Homo sapiens: one gene and its partner. The protein of the gene in region 2 interacts with the protein of the main gene of each other region in a biochemical or structural test. Each region holds a gene or a part of one and is shown on either strand. Other genes may lie near its edges.

Evidence for each region.
Region 1: the proteins of RNF135 (region 2) and DHX58 are reported together in a solved structure, tested with the Homo sapiens proteins (one study listed by BioGRID).

The regions. Positions count from the first base shown.
Region 1 is NC_000017.11:42,106,152-42,109,959, forward strand, and holds part of DHX58 (ATP-dependent RNA helicase DHX58), read right to left. Parts: intron 3,236-3,808; coding exon 3,119-3,235; intron 1,958-3,118; coding exon 1,831-1,957; intron 1,645-1,830; coding exon 1,453-1,644; intron 1-1,452.
Region 2 is NC_000017.11:30,977,382-30,981,189, reverse strand, and holds part of RNF135 (E3 ubiquitin-protein ligase RNF135), read right to left. Parts: intron 1-3,808.

The DNA of each region.
Region 1 (3,808 bases), about 11 Mb from region 2:
CTGTCTGGGAAAAAAAAAAAGAAAGCAAGAAAGCAAGAGAAAGAGAGAGAGAGAAAGAGAGAAGGAAAGAAAGGGAGGGAGGGAAAGAAAGAAAAAAAGGAAAAGAAAGAGAGAGAGAAAGAGAGAAGGAAAGAAGGGAAGGAGGGAAGGAAGGGAGGGAGGGAGGGAAAGAAAGAAAGAGAAAGAAGAAAAGCCCCAGAGGCAGAGGATTCAGATCTTGGAGTGGGGAGGGCACTGGCGGAGGAGGTTCTCACAGCAATAGGACTGTAGGCGTGCAGAAGGTGGGGGGTGGGGGGTGGGGGAAGGATGGAACTCCTGCTCAACTCCCCCACAGCAGCACCAAGAACATATTTAAGGATGCCCTGGCCGGGTGCATTGGCTCACGCCTGTAATCCCAGCACTTTGGGAGGGTGAGGTGAGCGGATCACCTGAGGTCAGGAGTTCGAGACCAGCCTGACAAATATGGTGAAACCCCGTCTCTACTAAAAATACAAAAAAATTAGCTGGGCGTGGTGATGCACACTTGTAGTCCCAGCTACTCGGGAGGCTGAGGCAGGAGAATCACTTGAACCCAGGAGGGGGAGGTTGTAGTGAGCTGGGATGGTGCCATTGCACTCCAGCCTGGGCGACAGAGCGAGACTCCCTCTCAAAAAAACAAAAACAAAAACAAAAAAGGATGCCTCCTACCGAGCCCACTCTCAAGGCCAGCCTCACACCGGGGTCATACAGTACAGAACCTCAGACCAGAACCCTCTTCTCCCCAGTGACCAGGATGACCCTTGAGCTTTTAACTCTGACCTCTGCTACCCAGATCTCTTGAGCCCCAGCCTGTGCTGCGATTTGCAACCTTAAATTTCACCCTCTGACTTTCAGCTTCACTCTCTCAGTCTAAAGGAACCACTCCTAGCTAATCCTTTTAAAAAATCTGGGCCGGGCACAGTGGCTCACACCTGTAATCCCAGCACTTTGGGAGGCAGAGGCAGGAGGATCACTTGAGCCCAGGAGTTAGAGATCAGCCTGGGCAACAAAGCAAGACTCCGCCTCTTCAAAAAAAATTTTTTTTAATTAGCTGGGAGTGGTGGTGCCCACCTGTACGCCTAGCTACTTGGGAAGCTGAAGGGTGAGAATTACTTGAGCCCATTAGGTCGAGGTTGCAGTGAGCTATGATTGCACAACTGTCCTCCAGCCTGGGTGACAGAGCAAGACCCCGACTATTAAAAAAAAAAAAAAAGTCAACAATGTTAATTAATTTTAACAACTAAGCAAAAACCTTCACAAATGAGGAAATAAATCAGTCCTACCCATGGCCTTGGATTTTGGTTAGAAAAATAGGATCTCCACCAGTATCCTCACGGGCACCTTCCCATCCGACCTTGGCGCCTGTGCCCTGGCCTCTGACCTCGCATCCAGGTCCCATCATCCCCGGCCCCGAAGCCCCCTCCCGCCCCTCACCATCGAACAGGGCCAGCAGCCGGCGCTCGGCACACAGGATCTGGGTTTTAGTGACGTGCTCCCTGTGATAGAAATCCTGCAGCGCAGCCAAGGCATCCACGGCGCGGACGGTGTCATGGATGAGCAGCGCGTCATTGTAGCGCCTCAGGTGAAGCGCATACACCCGTTGCTCCTGAAGCCCAGCCAAAGCCGCTGCGGGAAGAGGGCGCAGGGTCTGAGCAGCCCACAGCCCCGCCCCCTGCCCTGCCCCATAGGGCCGTCCCACTCGACTCCACCCCTGGGGTGGATAGGCCCCGCCCCAAAGGCCTCCGCCCCGGCAGGCCCCGCCCCTGACCACTCCCACATCCTCGCCTCCGCCAGAAGGGCTGCCCCTCTCACCAGCCTCACTCAGCTTCACCACCTGCTGCTCATACATTTGCGTCCCAAATTTCCGGCTCAACTCAGGCATCTCCAGGTGGTCATGGATTTGGTCCATGAGCTTCTTCAGCAAGTCCCCAAACGGATCCTGAGCAAGAGGAGAGTTGGAGGGGATTCCCATACACGTTGGAGGATGGGCACCCAGTGGGGGTGCTGACCCCGGCGTGTAGCACACCGCGACTGCCTCACCCATCTGTCTTAGCTGTGGTGTGAGCTCCAGAGGGAGGCCGGCTAGGGTGTGGGGGAGTCCTGCCCTGTCTCACCCGCGATGTGCTCTTACCCTTTGGCCTGGGCACGGTGATGCCTAGTGTAAGGCACATGGACGTGCTTTGGTCAAGGAATAGGCCGAGGCGGACATCCGGGCCAGAGTGACTCAGCGAGTTTGGGGGGCAGGCACGTACTCCACTTGCTATATAACCTGTTTGTGTAAGTTCATACTGGACTCTACTGTCAGTAGAAGGTAAAACTGCCCTGCTGACGCTGTTCACGGAGCTTGGTTCAGCTCGGCACGGCAGGGCACGCTTGCTCGCCCAGAGAGAGAATAATGCTACTAACCCCTGCAAGGGACAGCCGGTCGCCTTGAAGGTGGGCAGTGGGGAGCCAGGAACCCGCTTGTGCCCAGAGGGAAAGAGTTAAGCTGCTGACCCTGACAGAGCTGGCCTTGCCGGCCAGGGAGAGCAGCTGCAGGCGTGGGGGCAGCAGGAGCCACAGGGCCGGAGCAGACAGCCCAGATAAAGGTGGACAGTGTGAGAGAGCCGCTGCTGAATAAAACTACATTTCACCTGCCTATGGCCCCCCAAGGGTTCTTTCAGCTATCTGCTCACTCACTCCCTCCCTCCAGACCACAGCATGGGCTCAAACCTGACCCCAAGTGTAACATTTGGTATAGTTATGGACCTGACACCTAGTCCTTGTCCAGTCCAGTCATGGCAGACACGAGGCCGTGTCCACACTAGAGAGGGCTCAGTAGAGCCTCAGCACAAAGTATCCCTGCTCTCTGGTTTGTAGTGCACTCCCCAGCATGACAGTGATGTGACAGACACCAGTGGTGCCTTCTGAGTCAATCCAAAGAGCGGGCTGTGGGCATGGGCTGTATCTGCCCCATTTCACAGAAAGGAGAAATTGAGGCTTGGATACATAGCAAGTGACCTGAAGTCACAGAGCTAGTGAGGGCAGAGTCAGGGCCCAAGCCTAGGTGTCCTAACTTCACACCGGCTCCCGCTCTCGCCGTGTCCCTGCCCCCGCGTACCTGGCTGCGCCTGTGGCAGAGGTTGTACTGTTTGCAAGGCTGTTGGCTGTGCTCCTGCAGCTGGGGGCAGCAGTTCTGGGGTGACATGATGCACCACGTGTCCAAGTTGGCACAGAGCTGGGGGCAACAGAGGACTTTACTGGAAAGGGAGGGTCTGTGGGGACAATGGTCAAAGATTTGGGGCAGGATGGATCCCAGCTGAGGACAGGAGAATGTGGGCATTCGTCTACTCAAATATTGCTCGCCCTCTCTGTGCCCGTCTTGTTCTAGGCACTGGGGATACAAAGGAACTCAGATTGGAGTTGGAGAGGCAGATAATAAACCAGTAAAAGAATAATAGAACCGGCCAGGCATGGTGGCTCACACCTGTAATCCCAGCACTTTGGGAGGCCAAGGCGGGCGGGTCACCTGAGGTCAGGAGTTTGAGACAGCCTGGCCAACGTGGTGAAACCCCACCTCTACTAAAAATACAAAAATTAGCCAGGCATGGTGGCACGCGCCTGTAGTCTCAGCTACTCGGGAGGCTGAGACAGAAGAATCACTTGAACCCGGGAGGTGGAGGTTGCAGTGAGCCAAGATCGTGCCACTGCACTCCAGCCTGGGTAACAGAGACTCCGTCTCAAAAAAAAAAAAAGAGGCTGGGCACAGTGGCTCACGCCTGTAATCCCAGCACTATGGGAGGCCAAGGCA
Region 2 (3,808 bases):
GACGGGGTTTCGCTGTGTTGGCCGGGCTGGTCTCCAGCTCCTAACCGCGAGTGATCCGCCAGCCTCGGCCTCCCGAGGTGCCGGGATTGCAGATGGAGTCTCGTTCACTCAGTGCTCAATGGTGCCCAGGCTGGAGTGCAGTGGCGTGATCTCGGCTCGCTACAACCACCTCCCAGCCGCCTGCCTTGGCCTCCCAAAGAGCCGAGATTGCAGCCTCTGCCCGGCCGCCACCCCGTCTGGGAAGTGAGGAGCTTCTCTGCTTGGCCACCCATCGTCTGGGATATGAGGAGCCCCTCTGCCTGGCTGCCCAGTCTGGAAAGTGAGGAGCGTCTCTGCCCGGCCGCCATCCCATCTAGGAAGCGAGGAGCGCCTCTTCCCCGCCACCATCCCATCTAGGAAGTGAGGAGCGTCTCTGCCCGGCCGCCCATCGTCTGAGATGTGGGGAGCACCTCTGCCCCACCGCCCTGTCTGGGATGTGAGGAGCGCCTCTGCTGGGCCGCAACCCTGTCTGGGAGGTGAGGAGCGTCTCTGCCCGGCCGCTCCGTCTGAGAAGTGAGGAAACCCTCTGCCTGGCAACCGCCCCGTCTGAGAAGTGAGGAGCCCCTCCGTCCGGCAACCACCCCGTCTGGGAAGTGAGGAGCGTCTCCGCCCGGCAGCCACCCCGTCCGGGAGGGAGGTGGGGGGGGTCAGCCCCCCGCCCGGCCAGCCGCCCCGTCCGGGAGGTGAGGGGCTCCTCTGCCCGGCCGCCCCTACTGGGAAGTGAGGAGCCCCTCTGCCCGGCCGCCCCTACTGGGAAGTGAGGAGCCCCTCTGCCCGGCCAGCCGCCCCGTCCGGGAGGGAGGTGGGGGGCTCAGCCCCCCGCCCGGCCGGCCGCCCCGTCCGGGAGGTGAGGGGCGCCTCTGCCCGGCCGCCCCTACTGGGAAGTGAGGACCCCTCTGCCCGGCCAGCCGCCCCGTCCGGGAGGGAGGTGGGGGGGTCAGCCCCCCGCCCGGCCAGCCGCCCCATCCGGGAGGTGAGGGGCTCCTCTGCCCAGCCGCCCCTACTGGGAAGTGAGGAGCCCCTCTGCCCGGCCAGTCGCCCCGTCCAGGAGGGAGGTGGGGGAGTCAGCCCCCCGCCTGGCCAGCCGCCCAGTCCGGGAGGGAGGTGGGGGGTCAGCCCCCCGCCCGGCCAGCCGCCCCGTCCGGGAGGGAGGTGGGAGGATCAGCCCCCCGCCTGGCCAGCCGCCCCGTCCGGGAGGTGAGGGGCGCCTCTGCCCGGCCGCCCCTACTGGGAAGTGAGGAGCCCCTCTGCCCGGCCAGCCGCCCCGCCCGGGAGGGAGGTGGGGGGGTCAGCCCCCCCGCCTGGCCAGCCGCCCCATCCGGGAGGGAGGTGGGGGGGTCAGCCCCCCGCCCGGCCAGCCGCCCCGTCCGGGAGGGGGGAGGGGGGTCAGCCCCCTGCCCGGCCAGCCGCCCCGTCCGGGAGGGAGGTGGGGGGGGTCAGCCCCCCGCCCGGCCAGCCGCCCCGTCCGGGAGGGAGGTGGGGGGGATCAGCCCCCCGCCTGGCCAGCCGCCCCGTCCGGGAGGTGAGGGGCGCCTCTGCCCGGCCGCCCCTACTGGGAAGTGAGGAGCCCCTCTGCCGGGCCAGCCGCCCCGTCCGGGAGGGAGGCGGGGGGGGGGGGTCGGCCAGCTGCCCCGTCCGGGAGGGAGGTGGGGGGGGTCAGCCCCCCTTCCGGCCGGCCGCCCCGTCCGGGAGGTGAGGGGCGCCTCTGCCCGGCCGCCCCTACTGGGAAGTGAGGACCCCTCTGCCCGGCCAGCCGCCCCGTCCGGGAGGGAGGTGGGGGGGACAGCCCCCCGCCCGGCCAGCCGCCCTATCCAGGAGGTGAGGGGCGCCTCTGCCCGGCCGCCCCTACTGGGAAGTGAGGAGCCCCTCTGCCTGGCCAGCCGCCCCGTCCGGGAGGGTGGGGGGGGGGGTCAGCCCCCCGCCCGGCCAGCCGCCCCATCCGGGAGGTGAGGGGCGCTTCTGCCCGGCCGCCCCTACTGGGAAGTGAGGAGCCCCTCTGCCCGGCCACGACCCCGTCTGGGAGGTGTGCCCAGCAGCTCATTGGGGATGGGCCATGATGACAATGGCGGTTTTGTGGAATAGAAAGGCGGGAAGGGTGGGGAAAAAATTGAGAAATCGGATGGTTGCCGGGTCTGTGTGGATAGAAGTAGACATGGGAGACTTTTCATTTTGTTCTGTACTAAGAAAAATTCTTCTGCCTTGGGATCCTGTAGATCTGTGACCTTATCCCCAACCCTGTGCTCTCTGAAACATGTGCTGTGTCCACTCAGGGTTAAATGGATTAAGGGCGGTGCAAGATGTGCTTTGTTAAACAGATGCTTGAAGGCAGCATGCTCGTTAAGAGTCATCACCACTCCCTAATCTTAAGTACCCAGGGACACAAACACTGCGGAAGGCCGCAGGGTCCTCTGCCTAGGAAAACCAGAGACCTTTGTTCACTTGTTTATCTGCTGACCTTCCCTCCACTATTGTCCTATGACCCTGCCAAATCCCCCTCTGCGAGAAACACCCAAGAATGATCAATAAAAAAAAAATAAAAAATAAAAAATAAATAAAAAAAAGAAATAATTAAAAATCAAGCAGAAATTCTGGAATCGAAGAATGCATCTGACATACTGAAGAATGCATCAGAGTCTCTCAATAGCAAAATCGATCAAGTATTAGAAAGAATTAGTGAGCCTGAATTCAGCCTATTTGAAAATACACAGTAAGAAGAGACAAAAGAAAAAAGAGAATGAAGCATGCCTACAAGATCTAGAAAATGGCCTCAAAGGGGCAAATCTAAGAATTATTGGCCTTAAGAGGAGGTAGAGAAAGAAATAGTGGTAGAAAGTTTATTCAAAGAAATAATAGCATGGAACTTCCCAAATCTACAGAAAGACATCAATATCTACATACAAGAAGGTTATAAAACACCAAGCAGATTTAACCCAAAGAAGACTATGTGAAGGCATTTATAATAAAACTCCCAAAGGTTAAGGTTAAAGAAAGGATCCTAAAGCAGCAAGAGAAAAGAAATAAATAATATACAAGGGAGTTCCAATACATCTGGCAGCAGACTTTTCAGTGGAAACCTTATAGGCCAGGAGAAAGTGCCATGACATATGTAAAGTGCTGAAGGAAAAAACTTTTACCCTAGAAAACTATAATTTGTGAAAATAGCTTTGAAACATGAAGGAGAAATAGACTCTCCCAGACAAACAAAAGCTAAGGGATTTTATCAACACCAGACCTGTCCTACAAGAAATGCTAAAGGGAATACTTCAATCAAAAAGAAAAGAAGGCCAGGCGCAGTGGCTCATACTTGTAATCCCAGCACTTTGGGAGGCCACGGCGGGTGGATCACCTGAGGTCAGGAGTTCGAGACTAGCCTGGCCAACATGGTGAAACCCCGTCTCTGCTAAAAATACAAAAATTAGCCGGGCGTGGTGGTGGGCGCCTGTAATCCCAGCTACTCCAGAGGCTGCGGCAGGAGAATCGCTTGAACCCAGGAGGTGGCCTGTAATCCCAGCACTTTGGGAGGCTGAGGTGGGCAGATCACTTGAGGTCAGGAGTTCAAGACCAGCCTGGACAACATGATGAAACCCTGTCACTACTAAAAATACAAAAATTAGCTGGGCATGGTGGCGCATGCCTGTAGTCCCAGCTACTCGGGAGGCTGAGACAGGAGAATTTCTTGAACCCAAGAGGTGGAAGTTGCAGTGAGCCGAGATCACGTCACTGCACTCCAACCTGGGCAACAGAGTAAAACTCTGTCTCAAAACAAAAC